Regions from separate parts of the Homo sapiens genome. Here region 1 is linked to region 2. The links come from fine-mapping of genetic effects on plasma protein levels. A gene starts in region 2. The other region holds a variant in brackets. All regions are shown on one strand. Distances are between the middles of the regions.

Region 1 (12,920 bases), 16 kb after region 2:
ATCCCCTACGACCCACTGCAGGAAACCTCAGTTTCCTCATTTGTAAAATGAGCAGAGAAGCAGAGGCTGGGCCAACTGGAGCAGGGTGATGGTTTGAGACTGGAATGGTGTTTAGGGAGGATGGAAGACAGGTGCCGTACTAGGAGCTGTGGCTGCAGTGACCAGAGGGCCCCAGGCAGAGGCCTCCCCCACACTGGGAATGCAGAGATGGGCTGGGGGAGAAGAACCAGCAGAGAAGCCAGAGAGGGAGGAGGAAAGCAGAGGCCCCGGGAAAGGAGTCTCCAGAGAGGGGCCAGGCTGGTGAGACCAGGGAAGCATCTGTGGGGTTCAGCGAGAGGGATCGTGGTAACCTTGAGGGGGTGGTTTCTGGGGGCCAGGGAGCAGAAGAGGTCTCGGGGGTGGAGGGGGCGGGACTCAGTGTGGATGATTCTTCAGAAGTTTGGGTGGGAAAGGGCAGAGCCAGATGGCAGGAGCTGGGGCCAGGCTGGGAGCCCCCATAAGATTTCAACCAAAAGTGGGGGCCAGTGTTCCAGTGCAGTGGGAAGCAGGCAGCAGAGGAGAGAGGAGCTGAATCCCAGAGGAAGACACTGACGTCCAGATCAGCCGGGCGGGATCAGTGGGGCAGACCCACTGCGGGATCAGTGGAGCAGAAAGACGCTTCCCAGACAGCACAACAGCACGAGCGGAGGTGTGGCGGGTGGAGGTGTGGCGGGCAGGCACAGGCTGTGCTCCTGGGATGGTGTGGGCCACTGGTGGGAGATCTGGGGAGGAGGGTGAACCAGGCTGGGGGTCAGGGTTCCCGGCCACTGTCCAGCTGCTCCTGGCTCCAGGCCTCTCTCCCTTTGACCCACAGTCTCTGCCACTGCTGCCGGCCCAGAAGCTTCGTTTGAAGCAAGAATTCCCAGTCCAGGAACTCACCCTGAGGGGGAAGCCGCCCAGAGAATCCACATGAAATCGTGCTTTCTCGAGGACGCCACCATCGGCAACAGCAACAAAATGTCTATCAGCCCAGGGGTGGCTGGCCCAGGAGGAGTCGCAGGGTCTGGAGAGGGGGAGCCAGGGGAGGACGCAGGTGAGCTAGGGGGCAGAGTGGACCCCTGTGTGTTCTCTCTCTCTCCCCACCTTCCACTCATTCATTCATTCACTCTCATCGATCATTCGCTAATCTCTGGTTTCCCGGAGTCTGGAGGCTGTGCCCACCCACAGCGAGGAGCAGCAGCTCTAGAGTCAGCGTGGAGGCTCCGTCCCCCTAGTGGAGGGACCCACCCAAGTCATTTCACCCAGGAGCCTCTGTCTCCTTAGCTGTAAAGTGGGATGGCAAGAATAGCCTGAAGCAACTCCTACAGTGGTTGCAAGACTGGGGTAAAATCTGAAGGCGAAGCTCAGCCCTACACCAGCCCTGCCAGCATTCAGGAGATAGGAGTGTTATTGTCTCATCATTGTTGTGGTGATTGTTTTGGGCCCGAGAGAGGTGCTGGGTTGCCATGCAAATAAGGTTCTGCATCAGGGCACAGGCTGACCTGCTGCAGTGGAGATGCCACACACGGTGGCCCCGCCTGCTTGAAGCCCAAGTCTCATGTCCGGGTGAGGGTAGCAGACCAGGGTTTCTTTTACCTCAGTGCTGAGTCGTCCCTTGGGCTCCGTCCTCATCTGTGGGGTTGAACTTAGCACCAGCAAGCAGAGGGGCGAGAGAGGGTACAGAGAGCCGCTGTTGTCTTTGACCAAGCCCACCCACTGCATCTGTGCTGTTCTGAGGGCCTGCACTTAGCCACGGGGGGTCTGGGAAGTGCCGCCTGTGTCAAGGCAGTCTAAGCCCAGCAGAGACTCAGGGGAGGGGGCTCCACTGCCAACAGGAAGAGGGGAGAGGGGAAACCAGTGCGGTTCACCGTCCCAGCCACCGTTTGGTCCCTGGAAGCTGCACAGGCTGGTTGCAGAGCCTGAGGATTCCAACTCTGCAGAAGGGAGCTCGGGGCCTCGGGTGGGGGCAGCTGGAGAGTTGGGCAGGTCCACGCAAGGTGGGGAGGGCCAGGGCAGGTGTACCTGGTGGGTGGAACAGTGTGGACAATGGCCTGGAGGTGAGGACATGACAGTGTGGGAACCCACAGGGGTTTGAGGGTGACCTGAGCATGGAGAGCAGAGCCAGGGCCTGGCTCCAGGCTGCAGTCGATGCTAAGGCAATTGGAAGCCATGGGGGGCTTTGAGCAGGAGAGGGGCTGGATGAGATTTTTGCCTCCCATGTGAAAAAAGAATTAGAAGGCGGATTTCCGCTCCTACCCTTTTGGGATCTGGAATAAGGAATCACACCCAGTCCCACCAATGGGTAGAAAACATGGATTCACGGAATCTGGAGGACTGGCCGGCATCCACCCTCCAGTGCCTGAAGGCCCAGGGGATGCATGTCCTGGAAGTCCAGAGGGTCTCCTCACCCCAAGGGCCGTGTCCTTGCTGTCCCAGCAACTGAGGAGACCCTGGCCCCACGTGTCTTCAAACTCTCCCTCCAGGACCCCTGGGAGCCCCATGCACATGTGACACCTGCAGAACGGGGACCAGGAGCGCATTCCTCAGGACTCAGGCCATGAGCATCTGGGAGCATGGACTTCCTTCCAGCAGCAAAGGGAGTCTCTGAGACCTCCAAGGCCACTGGGGACCCTTGGGAGGGCATGTGCCACCAGATGGGGATCCGGCTTAGGACCCCACAGCACAGGCTGTCTGCAGAGCCCTGTGGGTCTCAAGCCAGACCATTGAAGACTTCTCTTTCCGGAAAGAACACAGCACTGTGTTTTTTAAAAATAGCCACACTTCTGGGTGTAGTGGCTCATGCCTGTAATCCCAGCACTTTGGGAGGCCGAGGCAGGTGGATCACGAGGTCAGGAGATCGAGACCATCCTGGCTAACACGGTGAAACCCTCTCTCTACTAAAAAATACAAAAAATTAGCCAGGCATGGTGGCGGGCACATGTAGTCCCAGCTACTCAGGAGGCTGAGGCAGGAGAATGGCGTAAACCTGGGAGGCGGAGCTTGCAGTGAGCCAAGATCATGCCACTGCACTCCAGCCTGGGCGACAGAGCAAGACTCTGTCTCAAAAAAAAAAAATGGTCACACTCCCAGATTTGCCCTGCAACATCCTGACATTCTTCCCTAAGGTTCTAGCAGAAGAGCTGATGACATCTTTGCCCCTTGCCCTGACCCACCCACCTCTCTTTGTCCCCAAGAGACATCAATAGGCATAGCTCAGAGATATTATGGGTGAGTTCCAGAACACCCCAATAAAGCAAGTCATGCAAATTTTTGATTTCCCAGTGCATATACAAGTTATATTCACACGATGCTCTAGTCTATTAGGTGTGCACTGAATCACGTTATATCTAAAAAACAATGTACATACCTTAATTTTAAAATACTTTATTGCTAAAAATGCTAACCATCACCTGTCTTCTGCCAGTCATCATCTCTATGCTGGTGGAGGTCTTGCCTTGATGTTGATGGCTGCTGACTGATCAGGGTGGTGGTTGCTGAAGGTGGAGGCAGCTGTGGCAATTTCTTAAAATAAGGCAACAATGAAGTTCGCTGCAGCAATGAACTCTTCCTTTCATGAAAGCTTTCTCTGTAGCATGCAATGCTGTTTGATGGCATTTTACTCATACTAGAACTTCTTTCAAAATTGGAACCAAGACTCCCCAACCCTGCTGCTGCTTTACCAACTAGGTTTATATAGCAGTCTAAATCCTTTGTTGTCATTTCAAGAATGTTCGCAGTATCTTCACCAGGAATAGATGCCATCTCAAGAAACCACTTTCTTTGCTCATCCATAAGAAGCAACTCATCTGTTCAAGCTTTCTCATGAGATTGCAGCAATTCAGTCCCATCTTCATATTCCACTTCTAATTTGTGTTTTCCTGCTATTTCCACCACATTTGCAGTTGCTGCCTTCACTGAAGTCTTGAACCCCTCAAAGTCATTCATGAAATTTGGAATCAACTTCTTCCAGACTCCTGTGAATGTTGATAGTTTGACCTCCTCCCATGAATCACAAATGTTCTTAACGGCATGTAGATTGGTGATCTTTTCCAGAAGATTTTCAACTTACTTTGCCCAGATCCATCTGAGGAATCACTCTGTGTTGCACTTATGCCCTCATAAAATATATTTATTGAAGAATAAGAAGTGAATGTTGAAGTTACTCCTTAATCCATGGGCTGCAGAATGGATGCTGTGCTAGCAGGCATGAAAACAATGTTAATTCTTTTTTACATCTCCATCAGAGCCCGTGGATGAACAGGTGCATTGTCAACGAGTAGTAAAAAAAAAATTTTTTTTTGGCCCTCAATCCAGGATGCGGAACACTCAGATCCTGTGGTATGGACGATGAGCAGTGAAATGTTCAAAGGAATATTTTGTTTTCTAAGCAGTAAGTCTCAATGCTAGGCTTAAAATATTCAGTAAACCAAGCTATATACAGGTGCTCTCATCTAGCTTTGTTGCTTCATTCATAGAACATAGGCAGAGTCGATTTAGCATCATTCTTAAGGGCCCTAGAATTTCCAAAATGGTAATTGAGGAGAGGCTTCAGCTGAAAGTCACCAGCTACATTAATCTCCAACAAGAGAGCCTGTCCCCTTTGAAGCTTTGAAGCCAGGCATTGACATCTCCTTTCGAGTTATGAAAGTTCTAGATGACATCTTTTTTCAATAGAAGGCTGTTTCATCTACATTAAGAACCTGCTCTGTTGTGTAGTCACGCTCATCAATGATCTTAGCTAGAGCTTCCGGGTAACCTGCTGCAGCTTCTCCATCAGCACTTGCTGCTTCACCTCACACTTGCATGTTATGGGGACGGTTTCTTTCCTTAAACCTCATGAACCAACCTCTGCTCACTTCCAACTATTCTTCTGCAGCTTCCTCACCTCTCTCAGCCTTTAGAATTGAATAGAGCAAGGGCCTTGCCCTAGACGAGGCTTAGGTTTAAGAGATTGTTGTAGCTGGCTCGATCCTCTATCCAGACCACTAAAACTTTCTCCACACTAGCCACAAGGCTGGTTCACTTTCTCATCACTCATGTGTTTGCTGAAGTAAGACTTTTAATATCCTTCAAGACCCTTTCCTTTGCCTTCACAATTTGGCTAACTTTTGACCTAGCTTTCAACTTGTCTTAGCTTTGGACATGCCTCCCTCACCAAGCTTAATCATTTCTCACTTTTGATTTAAAGTGAGAGACGTGCAACTCTTCCTTTCACTTTAGCACATAGAGGCCGTTTGGGGTTATTTATTTATTTATTTATTTATTTTTGAGATGGAGTTTTGCTCTCGTTGTCTAGGCTGGAGTGCAATGGCACAATCTTGGCTCACTGCAACCTCCACCTCCCAGGTTCAAGGGATTCTTTTGCTTCAGCCTCCTGGGTCGCTGTGATTACAGACCTGCACCACCACGCCTGGCTAACTTTGTATTTTTAGTAGAGATGGGGTTTCTCCATGTAGGTCAGGCTGGTCTTGAACTCCCAACCTCAGGTGATCTGCCCACCTCAGCCTCCCAAAGTGTTGGGATTCTAGGTGTGACCCACGGCGCCCGGCCCATTGTAGGGTTATGAATTTTCCTAATTTCAATATTGTTGTGTCTTCAAGGAATAGGGAGGCCTGAGGAGAGGGAGAGAGAGGAGGAGATGGCTGATCAGTGACAGGTTAGAGCACACAGATTTATTAATTAACTTCGTCATCTTCTACAGGTGATATTTGTGGCACCCCAAAGCAAAGCAATTATAATAGCAACATCAAAGATCACTGGTCACAGATCACCATAACACATATAATCAAAATGAAAAAGTGTGAAATATTGTGAGGATTACCAAAATGTGACGCAGAGACAGGAAGTGAGCATATGCTGCTGGAAAAATTGGCACTGATAGACTCGCTTCACACAGGGTGCCACAAACCTTCAACTTGTGAAAAATGAGTGCAATATCTATGAAGTGTAATAAACCAAAGTACAATAAGGTAAAGTGAGATAAAATGAGGTCTGCCTGTCACTTCCTCCTTGAGTGGCGGGCGGGACCTTATCCTGAGATGTGTAAGGCCTGGAATGGTTTTTGTTTTGTTTTGTTTTGTTTTGTTTTGTTTTGTTTGAGGAAATTGCTAATCAGAGACTGTCAGTGCCAGAGCATGTAGAGCCGTCTTTTGGGGTCCCTGGGAGGACTGGGAGAGCCCTGGGATGGGGGCTTTCTGGTGTTATTTCTGCTCCTCCATCTCACTGCTGTGAAACTAGGACAGGACTGGCTACATGATCTGGGGGCCCAGTGCAAAGTGAAAAGGTGGGGCTCCCTGTTCAAGACTTTGTACAAATCTAAAGACAGTAACAACAAAGGCTCAAGCTGAGCTCGAAATCCTTCCAAGAGCGGGTCCCTGTGGAAA[T/C]GCCCAGGCCACGTGCCCATGAAGCTGATCCCCCATCTTCTCTTCCCTAGGTCGTCGTCCCGCAGACACACAATCCAGAAGTCACTTTCCTCGAGACATTGGTCAGCCCATCACTCCCAGCCACTCGAAGCTCACCCCCAAGCTGGAAACTATGACTCTTGGAAACAGGAGTCACAAAGCTGCAGAAGGCAGCCACTATGTGGATGAAGCCTCACACGAGGGGAGCTGGTGGGGAGGTGGGATTTAGTGCACAGCCTCACGTGGGGCTTGGACACAGGCTGGGGGTGGGCGCATGCTAGGGAGACTAGCCTGCTGCTCTCTGCATTCCTTAGCGTCTTGTTTGACCTGCTTGCTTCCAGACATAACCTGCATGAATCAGTTTTGGGGGAATGGACCTGGCATGGGGATGGGTTCAGGCCAGGTCTTTTGATGGCCAGGAGTAGATGACAGGGAGTTGCCTTGGGGAACCTTTGGTGTGCCAAGAGGAGGTGGGTAGATGGGAGTGGGGCTCGGTCCCCCAGGCCCAGGGGACTCTCTCCACTCTTTCCTGGGCTCGGGGCATCTGCCTGGAGTTACCTTCCATCATGGCTACCTGCTGTGGTTTGAATGTTTGAGTCCCAACAAAATTCATATCAAAACATAATCCCAACTGGGTGCAGTGGCTCACGCCTGTAATCCCAGCACTTTGGGAGGCCGAGGCGGGCGGATCAATAGGTCAGGAAATCCAGACCGTCCTGGCTAACATGGTGAAACCCCGTCTCTACTAAAAAAAAAAATACAAAAAATTAGCCGGGCGTTGTGGCGGGCACCTGGAGTCCCAGCTACTCCGGAGGCTGAGGGAGGAGAATGGTGTGAACCCGGGAGGTGGAGCTTCCAGTGAGCCGAGATCGCGCCACTGCACTCCAGGCTGGGCGACAGAGCGAGACTCCGTCTCAAAAAAATAAATACATAAATAAAAAATAAACCAACCATAATCCCCAGTGCAGTGGTATGAAGAGATGGGGCCTTTTGGAGGGGATGGAGTCAGGAGGGCGAGTGGGATTGTGGGATTAGCGCTGCCATGAAAGGGCTTGAGGGAGCCTGTTAGTCCCGCTTGCCTGTCCGCCATGTGAGGATGCAGTAACAAAGTGCCATCCTTAAAGCCGAGACCAACCCCTCATCAGACACTGACTCTGCTGGCACCTTGATCTTGGCCTTCCCAGACCCCGAAACTGTAAGCAATAAATTCCTGTTGCTTATAAATTACCCAGGGTGAGGCATTTTTTTATAGCAGCCTGAGCCAACTGAAACACTGCCCCACTCTCTCCTCACCTGAGGTCTCACTTCCTCAAGGCCCATTGTGGCCACCTGACCTCCTTATCACCCGACCTTTCTAGAATCTTCTCTCCTCAGCCTTGATCTCTCAGGATCTTTTAGCTGGACTCCCAAAGAGAAAATTCTTTCCCACCCCGACCCTGGGTCCCCAGGCCCTGGTGGAAGTCATTGGCTGACCCATGGGTCAGGTGACCTCTTCTGGCCAATCAGCAGGGAGTGCTTGTGGATTAGCCCATTTTCACGCTGCCGATAAAGATATACCCAAGACGGGGTAATTTATAGGCAAAAAGAAGTTTAACGGACTCACACTTCCACGTGGCTGGGGAGGCCTCACAATCACGGTGGAAGGCGAAAGGCACGTCTTACATGGCAGCAGGCAAGAGAGAGAATGAGAGCCAAGGGAAAGTGGCTTCCCTTATGGAGCCATCAGATCTCATAAGACTTACTTCACTACCAGGAGAACAGTATGGGGGAACCATCCCCATGATTCAATTATCTCCTGCTGAGTCTCTCCCACAACACATGGGAATTATGGGAGCTACAATTCAAGATGAGATTTGGGTGGGGACACAGCAAAACCATGTCAGCTTGTTATTTACCAGACCCCACCACCCCGCTAGGGGCTAAGTTCCCGTAGAAGGGCTATGGGCTCTGCAACATTTCTTGAACCATGGGGTGGGGTGGGTAGTGGAGGGATTTGGTGGGGCATGGTGGGAGGAAGATGGAGAGGGATAGAGGGAGGTGGTGATCAGCTGGGCAGGGTGATTGTGGAACAAGGACTGTGTCCGTCCTTCAGTGTGCACATAGGCACACACACATGCACACACAGGTGTACACACACACATGCACACACACAGGCACTCTGCTGCCCCCAACTCCAATGCCACACCCAGTCCTCAGGTGGGCGTTTGTCACACTCCACTCTGTCTCCTTCACTGGCCTTGGCATCTGACACCCAAAAGCTGATGCCCCTGGGGCTAATGTCTACCTTGGCGGGGAGGGGCTGGCTCATCACAGGGCCTCAGTAAAAACAGTTATTGAACAAATTCATATCTCCTTGCCCAACTCGACTGGGAGGATCTTTAGGGTGGATGCTTTGACATATTGGTCAGAACCTAGACTGATATATAGAACTTACAGTTCATCCCTTAAAGGGGATTCGTAAGACATTGTTTGAGCTCCTTGATCCAGTCATTCCTGAAGCAGAACCTATCCTAGCACTTACCCATTAGAAGAACTGAGATGTCCCCTTAGTGCTGAAGCCAGCTCCACTGGGATTTCCATTTCTGAAGGGCAGCTGCCCCCTCACCTCCCCTACCCACTCCCCTTAGCTCACTGCTACTCAACCTGAGGCATGACCTTACCGAGAGATTTCAGAGCTCCCAGGCTAGCTGGATGCCTCCTGTCTGCTTCTGAAGCCTCCTCTGCTCCCCATATCAAACCCACACTTCATTGCCCCAACATTGCCTTGTCATTAGTCTAGCTCTCGTCCATCGAGACTCATTTGGTCGTAGATGATAGAAAGCTGAGACCTGCTTCAGCACAAAAGGGGATGCACTGGATCTTCTAATAGACAAGCCCAGGCATAGAGCCTGCTTCAGGAATGTCTAGATCCAGGAGCTCAGGTGATCTCTTAGAACTCAGCCTCGCTCCACCCCCCTACTGCTTTCCTCTGTTTTCAATGATAGCCCCCAGCAGCTCCAGGCCCCCACACCACTAGCTTAGCTACCCAGTGGAGAGGGATGACTTTCCCGACAGCAAAAGCCACAACAGATGGCTTTATTTGTATGCCCATTCCCCACCAGTCATTGGCCAGAGCAATAGAATGCGGTGATTGGCCAACTGGTATCACATAGCTTATCTCTGGAACCAGGATGGGGAGCAGCCACCCCCAGTCACATGGCCTAAGGGTGATGGATCAGCTGTTTTCTAAATTTACCAGGAAAGGGATGCTGGACAGGCTAGAACCTCAGAAGTCCGCTACACTCCCCAGCTTTGAATGAGGAATTTACTGGACTCAGGGGCCCTGGCTTTCAACTCTTATACCTCCAGGGTCCAATGTATGCTGGACAAGGCCCTTCACTGACCACATCCTGCAGGCTAACTCCTGTGCTGGGCCCTTGGGCTACTGAGAGTGGGAGACAAAGCCCTGTCATTGATAGTGGCTCACAGTGAGTCAGGAGGGGAACGTACACAGGCAGGGAGTTCAGAGCAGGAACCATCACAGGGAATCATGGGAGTGTGGGACAGGGGCCCAGACACAGCCTAGAGGGGTCCAGAAGGCTTCCTGGAGGAGGAGGGAACTCTCAAGAGCACATTTTTCAAGACCAGGCAGAGGGAGGAGGCTGCGTAGGGTGGAAATGGTGCTCTAGGCAGGCCACAGCTGGAGTAAAGCCATGAAGATCAGAACCAGCTGAGTTATTCAGAGAACCACCGTGGTTTGGGTATTGCCGGAGAGCCCAGCACAAAGAAGAGTGGAGGGAGGCTGGCTGCGGAGGCAGGTGGGGACCAGACCATGGCCGCTTGGGAGTTTGGACCAGACACTGCTGTACAAGCCAGCCCACAGGGAGGACTGGGCAGACCTAGGCAACAAGGTCGGTACAGCCATTGGATTGACTCTGGGGGATAGGGTGTCTTGTCCCATGGACTGGAGCTGCTCAGCCATACTGTAGGCAAAGTTATCTCAACCACCATGCTGATCTGGGATCCCCAGAGTATTTTCTCATAGAGTACCCAGTTTGCAAACATGAGTCACTAGGCAGGAGGGGATGAGAATGGGGTTTGTCTATCTTTCTGGGCGTGTCTTCCTGCTGCATGGAGCTGCAAATCAGTTGCTTGCCTCCAAGTTTGGCCAAACTTTGTGGATAACCAGGCCCCCTGTCAATGAGGAATCAAAATGCAGCTTCCACCCCCAGGCTGAATCAGAATACTCATTTTCCCAGCAAGATTTTCCCTGTGTAATTAATTTGTCATAAATACGCTGACAAAGCATTGCTAGCAGTTAATGGGGGCCAGAGGTGAAGGTCAATGTTAGTCTCCTTGGGAAGGAAATTAACTAGATACCATTAAAAGCAGAGAATGATTAAGTCCATCCACCCCTCAGCCCGCGCTGTGTCTAGCCCGCCCACCCACCCCTCCCTTCTGCCATGGTGTGTGCAAACGGAGCTTGTAGCCCCCAGAACTCGATGCAGGGAGGAGGAATTTGCTCCAGGAGTTGGAAATGATTTTCTGAAACCACCAACCTGCTCACAGATGCAATTTTATGTTCTCATTCCAGCTGCTCTCCTCCTCTCTGGGTGACCCCAGACAGGACTCCTCACTTGTGAGATTTTACCAGGCAACCAAAATTGGATGCTTAGAGCAGGAAGAAGAGTCTACAGAGGGACTCACGGGCATTTTGGCTTTGAATGGCCGAAGCCTAGCTCCCCAGGCTCAGGCACAATGGTGAATGTATTTGCTCATGCAACTGGGGAATCAAGGGACACTCATGTTCAGGAATGGTTGGATCCAGAGGCTCAAGCCTTCCTTTCAGGCTTCTTTCTCTCCAGCTCTCTGCTCTCTGATGAGTCTCTCTCCACAGGGCCCCAGCCACCGAAGGCTCAAAAAAAAAAAAAAAAACAAAACAAAACCCTGCATGGGGAGTTGTGAGAATCTGAAGCCTGATACTGCACAGAAAACCTATGAAGCCACTGGGTCTGGCCTGGAATGGAAGGCTGAGTGAATGTGGGAAAAAATTTTCAAGTGGGAAAAATGAAACCAATAAGATTTTTAAAAATACAGTCGGTTATGTATGTGTGGGTTCTGAGGATCGAAAATATCTGAAAAACAAGATGACTGCATCTGTACTAAACACGTGTGGACTTTTTTGTCATTATTCCCTAAATGATACAGTATAACAACTATTTACATAGCATTCACATTGTTTTAGGTATTATAAGTAATCTAGAGATGATTTAAAGTATACAGGAGGATGTGCATAGGTTATATGCAAATACTATATCATCTCATATCAGGGACTTGAGTATCCATGGATTTTGTACCCACAGGGAGTCCTGGAGCCAATCCCCTGGGGATACTGGGGGACGACTGTATGTTTAGGCATCTGTTCAATATTGTAGGTGGGATGTTGCAGATCTATTTGTACTTTTGAATCAAAACAAAAAGCAGGTTTTTTTGTTGTTTTTTTTTTAGCGTGCTTATTGACTCACAAACTAGCAGTGTTCAGGTAAGGCCTCATCCAGCAGCTCAAACAATGTGGTTCAGGACCCACTGTCCCTCCATCTCTCTTCATGGCTTCCCACAGACTCAGCTTTTTCAGGCTCCACACGGAGACTTTCCAGCCACTAAGAGTTCTGCCCTGCTGGGGACAAAATGGCTGCAGTGGTTCCAGACCTCACATTCCCACAGGGGACAAAAGCAATTTCTAAACCACCCCAGTATTTGCCACCTCCAATTGGGCATGGGGATGAGAGTCATTAGCTGTAGCCAATCCAGGCTCACCCCTGAATTTGGGGGTGCTTAGAATGGTGTGGACCTTCTGTGACAAGGGCATTTTCTAAGCATTCTTTAATCCTCCCCTTAAGTACATGAGGAGACTGGGGCCAAGGGAGGGTAAGTGGCTTGCCCAAAGCCACATGGCTGACAAGTGAGACCCATGTTCAAAATTCCAGATTGAAAACCAGATTTTTCCAGTCCTGGTGGTCAACCCATCACGGAGGATTTAACACTCCCATCTGCCAGGCTGCTAGCTCCCACGGATGACAGCAGACTGGCACCCACCCACGGGCAGCCACATCACCTCAGATGGGGAGGGGCCAGCAGGACCAGGATTTTGCATTCCATGAAAACCCTCTTCTGCAAGAGCTCCTGTGAAACAAGGGTTCCTTGGACAGTTGTGGATACGCAGCATGATGCAGCCCCCGCTGCATGATTCCAAGGCAGCCCATTCAGGGAGGTGAAACTACTGCTCAAGGACAGAGATAGGATTCAAACCCACTCAGGGAGGTGAAACTACTGCCCAAGGACAGAGATAGGATTCAAACCCAGCCATCAGGCAGGCTTGCAAGCCAGTGCTCTTAAACATGTTACTGAAAAAGCTGCCTGGGACATATCACCGCGGCCTGGCTGTCACCTCCCAGCCCCTGGCTGGTCAGCTCCCCCACTGTGTCTCATTGACCTGCCCCCCACGCCCACCCCGGGGCACAG
Region 2 (6,998 bases):
TAAAGACTCAAGATCAGTAACATGTAATTATCATCTGGTTTGGGCGGAGAGCTCTAATAGTTTCCAGAAAAACACAAGCCATGAACAGGGAGTGCGCCTTCCAAGGCAAAAGGAGATGAGGACTCCAGCAGGCAGTGGTGCCATCTTGGAAGTCTTGTGGCCTTTGAGGCCCTTTCCAGGCAGAGTAAGGAGGCACAGCAACTGCTGAATAAATGAACCCCGTGAATGGACACACCTGAAGGCACAGAGGAGGTATCTTTGCTCCTTTCTTGGGGACACCAGGGAACCTTGAAATGGCAGAGATAGCTAGGTCTCTGCCAATATCTACTGTCCCCCATTTTAAAGTCATAGAACCCCAATTTTAGCTGAGCACATGGTGACCCACAATACAGACCATCTTTCCAGGCCTCCCCTTACAGATAAGAGCCACAAGACTGACCAATGGGGTATTAGTGGAATGTGTGTGCAACTTGTAAGATGCGTGCTTAAAGGGAGATATCTGCCCTTGTTCCCTTTCCTACTCCCTGCTGGAAGGAATGCAGATGTAATGGCTGGAGCTTAGCAGCCATTCTAAAATGTAAGGCAAACTTGAGAATGAAGGCCACAAATGGCAGACCGACAATGTAGAAGGACCCCAGGTCACCACACTAAACCTGGAATGCCTACAACTCTTTCAAGAAAAAGACACAACTCTATTGTTTTAGCCACTGGTATTTAGGCTTAAAGATAATCCTTAGGGTCAAACTCAACTTAAACAGCTCTTAAATAGAGAAGAGAAATAAAGGCAATCTAAGTATTTAAAAGTAAGACTCCCACTCAGTGGGTGACAAGCACATAGCAGATTCCTGGCTTCATCTCCAGATGTGCCATGGAATGCAAAGAAAGGTGGAACCTACCCACGTGAAATGTTTTCTTCTTTTTGTCTATTGCTCTCTTTTGTTTGTTTGCTGTCTAAAGAGATACTGTGGAGATGCATCATGTTTTCTAACTTATGCAAATGTTGTGAGCACATACTAAGTGTCAAAAATGCTTTTTCTTAGTATCTCTGCTTTATAGTTAAAGAAACCGCGGCTCAGAGAGGTAGCGCCACACAGCTGGGAAGGAGAACCTGCCCTGGAGAAGAGACAAGACAGAATCCTTGTCCAGGGAACTTCCCGAGGCGCTTGGTCTCCACTGGCATGGTGGTCCCTGCTACAGACTCCTAAAAATGGCTCAGGCCCAGAGGGGCTCCATGTGCCTTCAGGATGTGGCCACGGGGACAGAAAGGGGTCATCCAAGCACAGTCTGGATGGAGACCAGCCGTGAGGGGCACCAGCCTCCTCCCTGCAGCAGAAGCCATCTTCCTAGAAGTAAGGCTGGCACCCAAGACCAAGCTAACATCCCTCAACCTGACCTGCAAGCCCACCAGGGACCTGGGGTCAAGGCCTGAGCTGCAGAGGCCAGGGAAGGAAGGGGAGAAGCTAGCATGGGCCCTGGAGATGGGGGGAGAGAGAGTTTCCCCACGGGGGAGTGGTGGGCTGTGTCAAGACCAACACTGGGAGGCCAGGCCGGAAGAGCACAAAGAACTGCCTGGAGGCTTCACAGAGAAACAGCTGGAATCTGACTCCTTCCAGGAAAGATGAGTGAAGAAACCACGATGAGTGACTGAAGAGACAGGAAGAATAAAGGATGATGCAGGACAAGGCAGTGGGAGGGGTGGGCACGTCTTGGAGCTGTGATTCATCAAGTCTGGAGTCCAACCATGGGTTGGGGTAGGAGCTCCTCCCTGCAGATCAGAGGGAACTTGAAGCCAAGGTGCGCCCAAGCCCAGGTTGGTGAGCGGCATCACCTGGTGGCCAGTTCGGGCGTGGCACCCCAGACACCCAAGGGACTCAGCCTTGCAGGGCTCAGCCGGAGCCCCTTCCGGAGGGCACCTTCATCATCTCCCTCAGCACCCCACCTACCCCCCCATTTAAAGAGCACTATTGTTATTTCATAGGGTGATACCTGCAGTTTTCGCTTTTACATAAAAGGAGAATAAAAGCATCCTGCAGTTTGCTGTTATTGACTTGCCCCAGACTTACTGGTTCTCCACCTGGAAGCAGGAAAAGTCACCCAGGAGCATAAAAAATCTCACCCTCGGGCCCCAGCCGCAGAGGTTGGAGTTGACTAGTCTGGGCCGGCCTGGGCATTGAGACTTTTTTTTTGCTTCAAACACTTAACATGCAGGCAGGGCGGAAGACCTGGGCTCCAGGTGCTCGCTCTGCAAAGACAGATAGCTTCAGGATAAACCTCCGGACCCCCTTTCCATTTGTATTTGCCGCTAAGCTGCTCCTTATGCATAAATGGGGTCTGCAAGGAGCACAGACGTCTCTAGCCCTCCCAGCCCTCTGCAGATGAGACACAGACCCCAAGTCCAGGGACTTCCAGGGCTGAGCTCTCAACCCCCTTGGCTGCCAAAAGCTGGGGGGCCTTGTACACAGCATTCACCTCTGTGGGCCTCAGTTCCTCCTTCTGTGATCTGGAAGAGAACAGTGGCTCTGAGTTTTTCTGAGGTCACTGGCCCTTTTGAGAATTATGTAAGCAACGGGTCCTCTCCCAGAAGCATTCCTGTGAGGTGACCACGGTGCCCGTGACTACGGATGGCTCTGGGGCTCTAGCCCGACAGCTGGGCTGTATCAGCCCCTTAGGTCCTCACCTCGACCCCATGCGCTAGGTCCTTTGATTAAGTCCTTTTACACATGGGGAAACTGAGGCACAGAGGGGTTAAATAATTTGTCCGAGGTCACACAGCCGGTAAATGGCGGAGCCAGGTTTGGACCCAAGCATGCTGACCCAGGCTTGCATTCCGAACCACTCGGCTGCTGACCCCAGGCATCTGACTCTGGAATTAATAAGCAAGTTTTATGATGAGGCGGGGAACTCCACGCCATCTGTGCACTAAGGGTGATTCACCAGTGACTTCTGGGTGTTATAGATCAGGAAACACAATTGGGGAATGGACAGGACAAGCTCTGTCATGGACTCTGTGTGGCCTTGGACAAGTGATCTTGCCTTTCTAGCCTCAGTTTCCCCCCTGAGAAGAAGACAGAACTGGCCCCTACCCTGTAGATGGGTTGGAGGAGCACTTGAGATTGGAAAACGCATAATAGGTGTTCATTAAAGAGGCTCACATGGATACACACAAGAACAATCTCAGGGCCTTCACGCACCTAAATGTTCTGCCCCTAGTGTGGGCAAGGGAAACAAACTGGAAGAAGACAAGAAAAGCCACTGAGAGCTGGGGACGGTGCCTCTGTAGCACCTGTGAGTCCCCGAGGAGGAAGTACTACAGGAACCAGCGGGGCCGGGCGTGGGGGCTTGCGGCTGGAATCCCAGCACTGTGGGAGGCCAAGGCAGGCAGATCGCTTGAGCCCAGGAGTTTGAGACCAGCCTGGGCAACACGATGAAACCCCATCTCTACAGAAAATACAAAAATTAGCCGGGCATGGTGGTCTAGGCCTGTGGTCCCAGCTACTAGGGAGGCTGAGAGGTGGGAGGATCGCTGGAGTCCGGAAGGTCGAGGCTGCCGTGAGCCGTGATCACGCCACTGCACTCCAGCCTGGATGACAGAAACCCTGTCTCAAAAACAAACAAAAACACAGAAACCAGATAACCAGCCCCAGCCCCTCACATCATCAGAGTGATGCCACGCCCTGGCATCCCCCTCCACGTGGTGCATGCTCTTTTTTTTATTTTTATTTTCTTCAGTTCTCTGATGCTGATTCAGAAAATAAAAATGTAGAGGTCCAGGTGGGCTGTGCCTGGAACGGGGAAGGTGAGGGAAGTCCTCTGTCTCAAAGGCCTCTTCGGAGGACGCTCTGGTCTTGCCAAGTTTACAGCTCCTCCCTGTCAACATCAAGTCAGGTCCCCAACTCTGTCTTGCTCATCCACCTGGCTTCCACTTTTTTTTTCTTTCAAAAGACGAACAGAGAAGTTTCATTTTCTTTTTCTCCTGAAACCGAATCTGGCCGGCCTGGCTAGGCATCTATTTCCGGGCTGTAAGCAGCTGACACCTGCCCAGTGGAAGCTGGCATCCCTCCCCTTGTGGGTTCAGAGCTGCAAGAAGCACCAGGCTCGGCCACTTCAGAAGCCCCAGCCTCGACCTAGCCCACCCTCTCAGGGCCACAGTGCAGAAGCCTGCACACCTGCCAAGTCTCTCCGACTCCTTGCAGCTGCTGTCAGCATGGCCCAGGCTCCTGCTGACCCGGGCAGAGAAGGTACAGTACTTCTTCCTTCCAAGGACCAGCGGTAGCTCCCGGGGTGAGATTTCTACTTCTCTTTCCTCCTGTTTCGCTTGGTCCAGATCATGATGACAATAGCAGTATCCTAAAGAATAGTAGACCAGCTGGGCGTGGTGGCTCACGCCTGTAATCCCAGCACTTTGGGAGGCGAGGTAGGTGGACTGTTTAAGCTCAGGAGTTTGACACTAGCCTGGCCAACATGGCGAAACCCCATCTCTACTAAAATTACAAAAATTAACCGGGCATGGTGGCGCATGCCTGTGATCCCAGCTACTCGGGATGCTGAGGCTGGAGAATCGCTTGAACCCGGGAGGTGGAAGTTGTAGTGAGCTGAGATGTCGCCATTGCACTCCAGACTGGGTGACAGAGTGAGATTCCATCTCAGAAAAAAAAAAAAAAAATAGAAAGGGACAGCATAGCCATCCCCCTTTGACAGCTGACTGTGCCCCAGGCACCTCGAAACATGCTTTCCAAGCATTTCCTGATGGCCTGCAGGGACAAGTGCCATGTCATTCCCATTTTATAGATAACTGAGGCCCTGAGAGGTGAAATGACACTCTCAGGGTAACACAGCTGGCGAACGCTGGTGTTAGCGTCTGAACACCCATGTCACAGTCATATCGAGAACAAAGCGGTTTGCTTTGATGAGATACATGTGTGCCTTTGTTCCCCCTTGTTGCATCCTTTCCTCAACTAACATTTCATTCATTTTATTCCTGGAAGAGTTGCAATGAAAGCCAATAGTGTATCGAGTAATTGCTGTTCTCTAGGGTCTCCACTAAGCGCTGTGGACTGTAGGTGAAGTGTGGTTTTGCGGTTTGGGGGATGTGTTTGTTTTGTTTTTAATCCTCACCACAATCTTTGAAGTAGTTATTACTGTCTCCATTTCACAGAAGAGGAACCTGAAGCCGGAGGGGAGGTCACACAGCTAGTAGTTGGCAGGGCTAGGAGCTCAAACCCAGGAAATCAGCCATCAGAATTTTAAAAAACCAACACAGAGTGTGCCCCGGGAGGGCTAATGTCAGGGTGTGGCCCAGGAGCCGGGCTGACCGCGGAGGTCCTGTGGAGCTTCCTCTTCGGGGACTCACGGGTGCTGACGCAGGTTCCGGACTCAGCCCTCGCTGGCTTTTCTTGTCTTCCTCCCCAGTTGATTTTCCTTTTGTGACCAAATTGTTGCCTACACCTGCTCCATTTTACAATTTCCCATTTTCAGACACAGTAGCCTGGGACTCAGCAGTCGAGGCCAGCCCAGGGCCAGTGCTTGTCCTGCATCCACACCTCTGACCCCCATCTCCTCTGGGGTGTGTGGAGCCGAGGCAGTGGCTCCCTAAGGTCAGCCTTCCAGAATCAAAACTGCGGCCAGGCGCAGTGGCTCACGCCTGCAATCCCAGCACTTTGGGAGGCTGAGTTGCGGGGATCACCCAAGGTCAGGAGTTTGACACCAGCCTGGCCAAAAAGGGAAACCCTGTCTCTACTAAAAATACAAAAATCAGCCGGGTGTAGTGGTGCGTGCCTGTAATCTCAGCTACTTGAGAGACTGAGGCAAGAGAATTGCTTGAACCCAGGAGGTGGAGGTTGCAGTGAGCCGAGATCACACCACTGCAGCCGCAGACCAGGCAACAAGAACGAAATTCCATCTCAAAACCAAAAAACAAAAAACTCTGCGAGACAAGGTGAAGCCAGGTGTGAAGTCAGGTGCATGGAGGTGCTGCTGGCTGCCGGTGGGGGAGTTTGGTGGGCGCAGGAGTGGGAATTCCCAGGTCTTCTAATTGGTCTTCACCTGCACACGGCAAGCCGGTCAGCGTTGTAACCATCAGGGTGAGGCACAAACTGATTCTTCCCTCCCCTACAAGTGCTGTGACCAAGGAACCCTGGGCAAACCTGGAGAATCCTCTGAACAGGAAAGAAAGCCCAGATGACAAAGGACTGAGTCACTGTCCTGGAAGGGGAACTCAGGTCTTTCCAAGAAGGGCTCTCCCATGCACTGCCCTCAGGTTCCTTGAAGCAGAAGCTTCCTGGTGACAGGTGGGGCCCCCGCCCACAGTGGCTCTCCCAGGCTGCTGGCTGCCAGGTGCTGCCCGTAACCTGCGTCTGCCCCAGCCTCATCTCTGGGCAGAGCAGCTGGCTTTGATCTTTTAATCATTGTGTGAGCTAATGGTTTTGATTTTTAAGAGCTGCCTCAGGAGGAGCAGGGGCCATTTGGAGAATTCCTCCTTGAACCTCTTGGGGTCCTGCTTAGTCCTCATTAAACTCAGGCCAGGAAACAGCAGCACATTGCCAACTGGCCAAGGAGAAGCTACCCGGGCCCTGCCCAGGGTCTATTGGGTAAACGTCTGTCCCTAGAGACAGACACTCACTCATTCAGTCCTTTTTTTTTTTTTTTCCAGAGATGGGGTCTTGTCCAGGCTGGAGTGCAGTGGTGCATTCATAGCTCACTGCAACTGCTACCTCCTAGATTCAAGCGATCCTCCCACTTTTAGCCTCTTAAGCAGCTGGGACTACAGGCATATGCCATCGTACCTACCTGATTTTTCTCTTTTTTTGTAGAGATGGGGGTCTCACTATGTTGCCCAGGCTGGTCTAGAACTCCTGGCCTCTAGGGGTCCTCCCATCTCAGCCTTCTGATGTGCTAGGATTACAAGTGTGAGCCACCACTCCTGGCCCCATTCATTCATTCATTCATTCACTCAGTCACTCATACATTCAACTGCCATTTCCTGAGCACCTACTGTGTGC

Which allele goes with the higher level. Alleles are on the strand shown, and positions count from the first base shown. The strength of an association depends on the size of the effect and on how common the allele is.
In carriers of allele C in region 1, the plasma level of the protein whose gene starts at base 4,074 in region 2 tends to be higher than with T alone (weak association).

The links. PIP is the chance, under the fine-mapping model, that this variant and not a neighbour inherited with it causes the effect. Protein levels are from antibody-based Olink assays in UK Biobank. Linkage for the fine-mapping came from a reference panel and not from the study's own genotypes, which makes the PIPs less certain.
Region 1: its variant is fine-mapped to the plasma level of the ZBP1 protein (UK Biobank, PIP 0.95).

The regions. Positions count from the first base shown.
Region 1 is chr20:57,598,301-57,611,220 of GRCh38, reverse strand. It overlaps ZBP1 (Z-DNA binding protein 1), which reads left to right. Exons shown (of 8, transcript NM_030776.3): 7 at 854-1,072; 8 at 6,452-7,369. The coding sequence ends at 6,648. Among named protein-coding and RNA genes, the nearest start is that of ZBP1, 16 kb to the left of the region's middle. The variant T/C (reference allele first, on the strand shown) is at 6,402.
Region 2 is chr20:57,617,502-57,624,499 of GRCh38, reverse strand. It overlaps ZBP1 (Z-DNA binding protein 1), which reads left to right and starts at 4,074. Exons shown (of 8, transcript NM_030776.3): 1 at 4,074-4,238. The coding sequence starts at 4,205. RefSeq lists enhancers at 3,825-4,114, 4,245-4,294, 5,375-5,484, 5,662-6,521.